Homo sapiens: one gene and its partners. The protein of the gene in region 1 interacts with the protein of each later gene in a pairwise test. Each region holds a gene or a part of one and is shown in the gene's direction. Other genes may lie near its edges. The genes, in order: EEF1A2, ABTB1 and MAPK6.

What was found.
Region 2: the proteins of EEF1A2 (region 1) and ABTB1 interact in binary tests that used the Homo sapiens proteins (3 or more experiments, as listed by UniProt).
Region 3: the proteins of EEF1A2 (region 1) and MAPK6 interact in a two-hybrid assay, tested with the Homo sapiens proteins (one large-scale study listed by BioGRID and IntAct).

What each region holds. Positions count from the first base shown.
Region 1 is NC_000020.11:63,492,561-63,496,212, reverse strand, and holds part of EEF1A2 (elongation factor 1-alpha 2), read left to right. Parts: intron 1-177; coding exon 178-357; intron 358-1,111; coding exon 1,112-1,408; intron 1,409-2,925; coding exon 2,926-3,076; intron 3,077-3,652. UniProt on the Homo sapiens protein: Translation elongation factor that catalyzes the GTP-dependent binding of aminoacyl-tRNA (aa-tRNA) to the A-site of ribosomes during the elongation phase of protein synthesis.
Region 2 is NC_000003.12:127,675,888-127,678,776, forward strand, and holds part of ABTB1 (ankyrin repeat and BTB/POZ domain-containing protein 1), read left to right. Parts: intron 1-82; coding exon 83-227; intron 228-384; coding exon 385-544; intron 545-648; coding exon 649-694; intron 695-1,079; coding exon 1,080-1,196; intron 1,197-1,280; coding exon 1,281-1,399; intron 1,400-1,577; coding exon 1,578-1,676; intron 1,677-1,788; coding exon 1,789-1,956; intron 1,957-2,889. UniProt on the Homo sapiens protein: May act as a mediator of the PTEN growth-suppressive signaling pathway. May play a role in developmental processes.
Region 3 is NC_000015.10:52,043,076-52,046,727, forward strand, and holds part of MAPK6 (mitogen-activated protein kinase 6), read left to right. Parts: intron 1-702; exon of another isoform or gene 703-2,589; intron 2,590-2,754; 5' UTR 2,755-3,385; coding exon 3,386-3,652. UniProt on the Homo sapiens protein: Atypical MAPK protein. Phosphorylates microtubule-associated protein 2 (MAP2) and MAPKAPK5.

The sequences.
Region 1 (3,652 bases):
CTGGGTGTGGGGTCCCGACGGAGGGGGCCGGCGTCCCAGGACCCCGACGGAGAGCAAGGGGGTGCTGGAGCCCATCTCCCGCCTCTCGCGGCCACTCTGCTGTAACAAGCAGCTCGCACCACCAGGGACTCCTGGGTCCCGGGTCCCGCCCTCAGCCGTGACCCTCACCCGCTCCAGATGGGGAAGGGATCCTTCAAGTATGCCTGGGTGCTGGACAAGCTGAAGGCGGAGCGTGAGCGCGGCATCACCATCGACATCTCCCTCTGGAAGTTCGAGACCACCAAGTACTACATCACCATCATCGATGCCCCCGGCCACCGCGACTTCATCAAGAACATGATCACGGGTACATCCCAGGTGAGCAGGGCACAGCAGGCGGGGCTGGGGGAGAGGCCGCTGCACCCTTCAAGGGACACTGGGGGCCCCTGGGGTCACTGGGATGGTAGGGTCTCCTGTGCTTCCTGTGAGGGCAGGGGACCCCTCACCTGGGCCACCCTCACCCAGTCTGGCTCAGAGCCCCCCTAAGGATGAATCCAGTGCTCTGGCATCTGAACCAGTGCCTGTGAAGGCATCCAGCCAGTGTCAGAGTCCCCAGATAGATGGGGGCAGATGGGGACGTGGACACACCTTCATACATGGAGGGGTTGGAGGCCAGGATGGGGAGAGTGAGCAGTGGGCAGAGGTGCCACCCGCCAGGTGTAGACTGTATGACATTTCAGGGCACTCACAGAGACGCACGGACACCCCAGACACAGCACCCTGCAGACAGCAGGACACATGCCACCACCTCCAAACTGCTTTGATAACTGTGACTTCTATCCGTCCTCAAGTGAGGAACAGGAGCAGATAGGCTGAGTGACTTGTCCAGGGACACACAGCCCACTGGTGGTGGAGCCAGGGCTGAACCTCGGTCCCCTGACCCAGGGCCTGGCGATGAGCCCCCATGCTGCCCTTGAAGTGGGGACCCCCATGCCTCCCTCCCCAAGGCCCCAGTGGGCTGCTCAGGCCCCAGCCCGCTGCCTGGAGAGGCCTGGAAGTGAGGTGGGGCCAGGCTCGCTCTGTCCCCTGCCAGGCAGGCGGGGCAGGGCTCACTGTGTCCCCTGCCGGGCAGGCGGACTGCGCAGTGCTGATCGTGGCGGCGGGCGTGGGCGAGTTCGAGGCGGGCATCTCCAAGAATGGGCAGACGCGGGAGCATGCCCTGCTGGCCTACACGCTGGGTGTGAAGCAGCTCATCGTGGGCGTGAACAAAATGGACTCCACAGAGCCGGCCTACAGCGAGAAGCGCTACGACGAGATCGTCAAGGAAGTCAGCGCCTACATCAAGAAGATCGGCTACAACCCGGCCACCGTGCCCTTTGTGCCCATCTCCGGCTGGCACGGTGACAACATGCTGGAGCCCTCCCCCAACGTGAGTGGCGGCTAGGGCGGGGCGGGCCACGGGAGCTGGCTGGACCCCCTGGCCCAGAGCGAGGCACCGGCAGGTGGCACGGGGAGGTCGAGGGCCTGTCCCCGGGAAATGCAGGTTCCCCTCGAAACCTGCTGGGTTTCCCTAACTGGCTCAGGGCCCGGCGGGGAGCCCCATGCCCCTCAGCACCGGGCTTTGCTCCTACACTCAGCCTCCCACGCGGCTGGCCGGGGCCAGGGCCCATCTACGATGTCAACACAGCAGGGGCAGCGGCCTCCAGCACCAGGCCCATGTGCTTGGTCTCCAGAGCCCTGCCATGGGGGCGGTCGGTTTCATCTCTGCCAGGCCATTGTCCTGGTCCTGGACACCGTGCAGGGGCTTTGGGCTGGGCCGTGGGGGCCTCCTTGGCTGCCTCCCCTGGGATCTTGGAGCAGGGTTGGGCTTTGGGAAGTGTGCATGCTTCTGGGCTTGCTGGGATGGCCAAGGGTTGGCTCTTGGCCGGTCACCTGGGAGCTCAACGTGCGAACAGTCTGTAGCCCAGGGACTCTGCCTTGGCTGGAGGTGACGCGTGGAGACACTTGCAGAACCTGAGACTGTTCCCAGGGTTCTCCAAGCCAGAGGAGACCCCAGAATGGCCACCACTAGGCTCTGCCAGCACTGTCGCTGCCCACAGTGAGGGTGCAGGTGTGGAGTCTAGAGACAGCAGGGAGACAGACCAGCAGCACTGAGCCTGGAGCTGAGGTCTGGGGACAGAACTGGGAGGGACTCCCCCAGCTCCGCCTCCATCTCACGAGGCTCGGTGTTGTTTACCTGTGATGGCGTTTTCCTCATGGGGTATCATGTGGCGAACGCCACTCTCCCCTCCCCAGGGAGGCCTCCAGCCATCAGGGACCCTGCACTCCCCTCTGGCCTGAGCTGCTAGGTGGCTCGTGCTTACACAGGCCCTGGGGGGCTGGGGCACTGTGCTGCCGGCCCCCTCCCCTGCTCCCTGTTTGTGGCAGGTGGCCCAGAGGGAGGCTTCATGGGATGGGAGTGGGGGCCACACTAGGAGAAGCTCCGGACAAGGCTGGGCCAAGCTCGGAGGCAGCACGGTGTCCAGAAGCTAGGGTGGGGCGAGGCTCCTCCAGCTCTGTCCCTGGCCTGGCCCTTGGCCAGACTCAGCATCCTCCTAGTCAAGTCATCTGCCCTGCCTGGAGCTGATGGTCAGGGGCCCGGGGTTTCGGGGACTTGGGGCTGGACTGGGGATTTGTTCACAGTGTCAGCAACTCCTGAGCAGCCTGGGCTGGGAAGGGTGCTTTCCCTCTTTGTCCTCCTCCTTTTAAGAGGGATCTCCTTCCCAGAGTCCCTGTGATGCTGGGGCTATGGGCTGGGGAGGAGCAGGGTGGGGAAATTCCTCATCTCAAAGGGCACGAGGCAAGTTTAGCCTGAACAGCAGTACTCCTGGAAGCACCCTGGGGAGGCCTGAGGGTGGGGAGGCCACCAATGTCTCTTAACGGATTGATTTTCTCCCTTTGGTCCAGATGCCGTGGTTCAAGGGCTGGAAGGTGGAGCGTAAGGAGGGCAACGCAAGCGGCGTGTCCCTGCTGGAGGCCCTGGACACCATCCTGCCCCCCACGCGCCCCACGGACAAGCCCCTGCGCCTGCCGCTGCAGGACGTGTACAAGATTGGCGGTGAGCAAGGGCGCTGTGCTGGAGCTCCTGCCTGGCCAGCTCTGCCTGCCCTAGACCAGGGGCCCCTACAAGGCATCTCAAGACTGGGCTGTCTCCAATCTCTCCCCTTACCACACACTTTCTGTGGGACAGTCCATCCCACATCCATCCATCCATCCACCCACCTCCCCACCCATCCATCCTCTGTCCATCCATCCACCCATCCATCTATCCACCTCTCCATCCATCTATCTATCCATCCATCCATCCATCGATCCATCCATCTCCCCACCCATCCATCCTTCACTCCATCCATCCATCCATCCATTGTCCCATCCATCCTTCTCTCTATCGAACCATCCCTCCATCTCTCCATCTATCCACCTCCCCACCCATCCATCCTTCTGTCCATCAATCCATCCATCCATCCATCCATCCACCTCTCCATCCATCCATCCATCTCCCCACCCATCCATCCTTCTCTCTATCCATCCATCCATCCATCCATCCATTGATTGTCCCACCCATCCATCCTTCTCTCTATCCCTCCATCCATCCATCCATGCATCCATCCATCCATTGTCCCACCCATCCATC
Region 2 (2,889 bases), on another chromosome or scaffold:
GGAAGGTGGGGAGGAGGGACAGGGAGATTAGAATTTCCCCCAGGCCCCTTCCCTGCTAACTGGTGAGCCCTGCCTCCCCCAGGAGCCCGCTGCGAGGCCAACACCTTCGATGGTGAGCGCTGCCTCTATGGGGCACTGAGTGACCCCATCCGCCGGGCTCTACGCGATTACAAGCAGGTCACGGCTTCCTGCAGGAGGCGGGATTACTATGACGACTTCTTGCAGCGGTGAGCCAGGGCACACGAGGGGTGCAGCATGGGGTGCGGTGGCCCTGGTGGGTGTGGCGAGTCTGCTCTGACTGTGGCCTGCACTGGGTTCTGAGTGCTCCGAGGAATGGGGTGGGGCTGTGCCAAGTATCCTCCCTCCTGGCTTGTCCCTCCCCAGGCTTCTAGAGCAGGGCATCCACAGTGACGTGGTCTTTGTAGTACACGGGAAGCCATTCCGGGTGCATCGCTGCGTCCTGGGTGCACGTAGTGCCTACTTTGCCAACATGCTGGACACCAAATGGAAGGGCAAGAGTGTCGTGGTTCTCAGGCACCCACTGGTATGTCCCTTCAGGGTGGCAGAGGGGCATGAACTGTCCAGGAACAGCAGGAGGTTGTGCTGGGTGGCTGCCTCTGACATTACTTTCTGGTTTTCTGCCCACAGATCAACCCCGTGGCCTTTGGGGCCCTGCTGCAGTACCTGTACACAGGTGACCCCCTGGGTCCAGGGTAGGAGGAGAGGGAGTGGGCCGTCCTTCTGGACAGCAGTACACCTAGGTGTGGCTGGGCTGACCTTTCACCTCTAGACACTTCATGGTCCCCCCGGGGTGGTTCCAGCTGCCTCTCGGGTTGGGTTGCAAGAGAGAGGACTAGTGTGCCTGCTCAGGAAGAGCTTGTCCCACCCACATGCTGAGGCCCTCCCATCTGTTCCCTGGGGCCTGTAGAACAGCTTTTGATGGGGAAACCATGGTGGCAAGTGGGCCCAGGAGTCCTAGTCCTGCAGCCAGGTGGCCAGGTGGGAGGGGATCACCCTTTTTCTGTGGGCCTGATGACAGCTGAGGTCCCGCAGGCCCTCATCCTCCCCACTGCCCCCAGGCCGCCTGGACATTGGCGTAGAGCATGTGAGTGACTGTGAGCGCCTGGCCAAGCAATGCCAGCTGTGGGACCTGCTCAGCGACCTGGAGGCCAAGTGCGAGAAGGTGTCTGAGTTTGGTGCGAGCAGGGTTTGGGGCCCGGGGCCATGGGTGCGGCCTGGCAGGGCTGGCCTGGCTCCCTGAAGTTGTTCTTCCCCTGTAGTGGCGTCTAAGCCAGGCACGTGTGTGAAGGTGCTGACCATCGAGCCCCCACCTGCAGACCCCCGCCTCCGGGAGGACATGGCGCTGCTGGCCGATTGTGCCCTGCCCCCCGAGCTCCGAGTAAGTGCGGGGCTGGTGGGCAGGAAGGGCGTTTTGGGATGGCAGGCCGTGACAGGCAGCCCAGATACTTGGGCTCAATTCCTTGTGTGGTCCTGGACCAGTTACTTCCCTTTTCTGAACCTAGTCGTTCACTTCTGTGAACAACTGCTCTGATGGGGTCACCTCTTCTGTACCCCAGGGTGATCTTTGGGAGCTGCCCTTCCCTTGTCCTGACGGCTTCAACAGCTGCCCTGACATCTGCTTCCGAGTGGCTGGCTGCAGCTTCCTCTGCCACAAGGTGCCTGTGCCCTCCTGTTGCCCCTGGCCCCAGCCCGTTGCCCTGAGCCCCCGTCTAGCTCCTCAGGAGACAGACCCTGGCCCTCACACTTCCTGAGCCCGGCCTCCCCCAGGCCTTTTTCTGTGGCCGCAGTGACTACTTCCGAGCCCTGCTGGATGACCACTTCCGAGAGAGCGAGGAGCCAGCGACCTCAGGGGGCCCCCCAGCCGTCACCCTGCATGGCATCTCACCCGACGTCTTCACTCACGTGCTCTACTACATGTACAGCGACCACACTGAGGTGGGGGCTCAGGCAGAGCTGGGGATGGCACACAACCTGTGCTGCCGTGGGCTGAGAGGGAGCGCCAGGGCCCTGGGGGTCTGTGGAAGGGCCCAGCTGGCCCCATGGTTGACGTTTTGAGAAGGCTGGAGGGGAAGGCTGTGGGACTTTGGATTTTTCTTTCAGGTAGAGGAAGCCTTGTTGGGCTCCAGAGAGAGGATGAGTGATGAGCCTGTGTCACAGACACTCCACACTTGTCAGCCACTTGGGATCCTCAGCTTCTCTAGCAGGAGGGTGGAGGGTGGGTGGGGACAGCCTCCTCTCTGTGGTGCTGCAGATCCCTGGGGTTCTGGGTTCCCAGTCTCCTCTTCCCTTGCTGCCTGCCTCTGTCTCCAGCTGCCCCAAGGTGTCCGTAAGCCAAGGCTGCAGGGCAGCAGCAGAGTGCTGAAGGTTTGCTCTGCCAGGGTGTGTGAGAGAGAGAGAGAGTGTGTGTGTGCGTGCGCGTGCGCGCGCACTATAAAGCAATCCCCATATCTGGTGGCTTAAAGAAGAGGGGAGTTTGTTTCTCCTTCACTTCTGACTGAGGTGGGTGCCCCAGGGCAAGTGGCTTGCGGAAGATCAGGTCATCCCTCCATCTTGCCCCTGTATGCCTAAGGGTGAAGGTCAAAAACCTTTTCTCTGAAGGTGAGTGTTTCAGGTTCTGTGGGCCATATGGCCCTGTTGTAGCTACTCAACTCTGTAGCGCAAAGGTAGCCAGAGACAGTACAGAGATGAGTGGGTGAGGCTGCATTCCAATAAAACTTTACTTGCACAAACAGGCTGGATTTGGTCCACAGGCCGTAGCTTACCCATCCTGCCTGGGGCATCGCGTTTGGCCATGGAGATTGGGTCCTAGGCAAACTCATGCTCTAGGAGGAAGAGGAAGGCAGGGCAAGCAATGCTGTTTTTGTAGAA
Region 3 (3,652 bases), on another chromosome or scaffold:
GAGTGGTGATCACGCCACTACACTCTGGCCTGGATGACAGAGCAATACCCTGTCTCAAAAAACAAACAAACTGGTTTTCCTAGGGTATTTAGTGGGGAGCGAGCAGGAAGAATCAAGATGTGTACAAACAGAAAAAACTTGGTGGGAGGGAGACATGCAGTATTAAAGCCCTTTTTAAAAATCTGAAACTTTTTTACCAATACAAAAATTATTTTTATTTTTTATTTATTCATTTTTTTTGAGACGGAATCTTGCTCTTTTGCCCAGGCTGGAGTGCAGTGGCGTGATCTCACCTCACTGCAACCTCCACCTCCCAGGTCCAAGCGATTCTCTTGCCTCAGCCTCCCGAGTAGCTGGGATTACAGGCACCTATCACCACGCTGGGCTGATTTTTGTATTTTTAGTAGAGACGGGGTTTCTCCATGTTGGTAGGCTGATCTCGAACTCACGACCTGAGGAGATCCACCTGCCTTGGCCTCCCAAAGTGCTGGGATTACAGGCGTGAGCCACCGCGCCTGGCCACAAAAATTTATTTTTATTACTTATTTCCACTATCACATGAGCTAGATCATATAACAACATTGAAAATCCACTGGCTAAAGACCAAAGACAGACTAATGGCTCAGCTAGATAATAGCAAATGATATGTTGGACTTAAGTTGTTTGATTTTTTTTTTTTTTTTTTTTTTTTTTTTTTTTTTGAGGCAGAGTCTCGCTGTGTCCCCCAGGCTGGAGTGCAATGGCAGGATCTCGGCTCACTGCAACCTCTACCTCCCTGCAACCTCTACCTACCTGGTTCAAGCGATTATCCAGCCTTACCCTCCTGAGTAGCTGGGACTACAGGCATGCGCCACCACGCCTGGCTACTTTTTGTATTTTTAGTAGAGACGGGGTTTCACCATATTGGCCAGGCTGGTCTTGAACTCCTGACTTCGTGATCTGCCTGCCTCGGCTTCCCAAAGTGTTGGGATTACAGGCGTGAGCCACCGTGTCCGGCCTTGAGATATTTTTTTAATTCAAAAGTTTATTCACAAACTTCAACTTTTAAGTGTTTTATTACAGATAGACTGGTAAGCTACAGAATTTTTAGGACTTTTTTTTTGGGGGGGCGGGCTAGGAGGGCTGATTTCTGAGAAGCAGAGAAAAACTTGTAGACAGGAGAAGCCGTTTCTGTTACAGTAAAATAAAGCTATTATACTATTAGTATCCTTCATGATATTAAGCAGATACAAGACCCGTTCTTATTTATTAAAAGAACTGAGGGATATAGTAAGTATCAGTTTTTATTAAAGCTGTCTTTCTCCTATTGGACAATGAGTTGCGTTTACTGAGGGCCAGAATCCTTTTGCTCATATCAGGTTTGCTCCTGCCTAGCATATAGTAGTTGCTCAATATATGTTTATATATTAAACGAATAAATTGGTGGCTTTATTCTTTCTGCCTAAAATATTGTCTGGTCTTATTTGTTAGGAATTCTGACCACCTGATTTTCCATAATGCCTCATATCTGGTATTCTGGGTACTCTGCAATTAGGCCATTAAGAAACTGAAAGAACCAAGTTGCATTTTTTTTTTTCCAGGCTGGCTAGGGAACCATCTACTGGAGTTGAGGCTATTTTTTCCTGCCCTTTTATAGGATATTTTTTAAAGTATGAAATATTTTAAGTGTACAGAGATCAATATAATGAACCTTCATATACATACCACCCAGCTCTATAAGATTCTAGTAATCTGCCATGTTTGTTATTTTAAAATAAATAACACATTAAAACGCAGATAAATGATTCTGGTCTCTTTCCTTAATCTCCGGGTAATCATTATGAATTTGGTATTTGTCTCATTTTTTTTTCCTTTTTTTTTTTTTTTTAGTTTTGCAATATACATATGTACTTACCAAAAAAAACTATTTTGCATGCATATAACTACTTATCTGTTCTCCTATTTTATGAAGTTGAGGTTGTTTCTAATTTTCTTTACCAAAAAAAAATGAGCATTTCTCTAGGGAGTTTACTGTGAAGAAAAATGGCCGGGTCATAGAGTACGCTATTTATTTATTCATTTATATGTTTATGCCAAATTGCTCTGAAGTTTTTACTAATTTAAACTCCAACCACTATTGTGTGAAAGTTTGTTTTTCTACACTCCTCAGACTTGACATTAACAGAGATGCATGTTTTTTCAATCTGAAATGTTCTCTTAAGGTAATCTTTTCCTATCAGTCACATTAAATACCTTTTCATAGGTATTATTCATTGTTCAAGTTTACTCTTATAAGTTGAAGAACATTATTTGCATATTTGTGCTGTTAGATTTTTGTTCATTGGATATTGATAGGCATAGTTAATAAGTAAACATGCTTTTTAACAAACTAACACATTGCAGGCTTCTTCTATATTCTTTTAGATATTTAGATAGATGTTACTAACGTTTTACCCCTCACAAAACTCAAGTTCTATAAAAATATTATGAACCTTCCCATACTTGTTGGCATTTCAGAAATGGTACAACCTAATGAGCCTGTTACCAAGAATCTAGTGTAGTGAAATCTGGAGCCCGGGCCAACGTGTGTGAATTGCTGATAACATTTTTGTAAGCTATTTTTGATTAAGGGTAATTTGTCACTTAATGACCATAATTAAGTTTAATGTACCAGTAGTAGTTTATTGCTAAATGCCTACTTTGTGTCATACTACAAATTTGAAGAAAAGAGTATTTCCTGCAATGGTGACTCTCTTCTTTTTCTCATCCCCCCAGGTTGTATCAGAGTAAGATGGACGGTAGCTTTGATTGTGATTGTGGTGAGCTGGAGCCACCTGATCACTAACAAAAGACATCTTCTGTTAACCAACAGCCGCCAGGGCTTCCTGTTGAAATAAATATATAGCAACAAAGGAAAAAAAGAAGCAAAACGGAAATAGTGCTTACCAGCACCTTAGAATGATGCTGCTCAGGACCAGTCCAACACTGAATGTATCTGCACTGTGAGGAGAATGTTCATAGAAGCCTGTTGTGTGCATATTTATTCACATTTTTGTTAAATGTTAAATCGTTTAGCACGGTAATCTGAGTGCACAGTATGTCATTTCATTCCGTTTGAGTTTCTTGTTTTCGTTAAATGTCTGCAGAGTTGCTGCCCCTTTCTTGAACTATGAGTACTGCAATCTTTTTAATTCTCAATATGAATAGAGCTTTTTGAGCTTTAAATCTAAGGGGAACTCGACAGGCCTGTTTGGCATATGCAATGAACATCAAGAAACCATCTTGCTGTGGAAGCATAATTATTTTTCTTCTCCCTTTTTGAAAGATCTTTCCTTTTGATGCCAGTTTTCTTCCTTGTTTACACAAGTTCAATTTGAAAGGAAAAGGCAATAGTAAGGGTTTCAAAATGGCAGAGAAATTTGAAAGTCTCATGAACATTCATGGTTTTGATCTGGGTTCTAGGTATATGGACTTAAAACCATTGGGTTGTGGAGGCAATGGCTTGGTTTTTTCTGCTGTAGACAATGACTGTGACAAAAGAGTAGCCATCAAGAAAATTGTCCTTACTGATCCCCAGAGTGTCAAACATGCTCTACGTGAAATCAAAATTATTAGAAGACTTGACCATGATAACATTGTGAAAGTGTTTGAGATTCTTGGTCCCAGTGGAAGC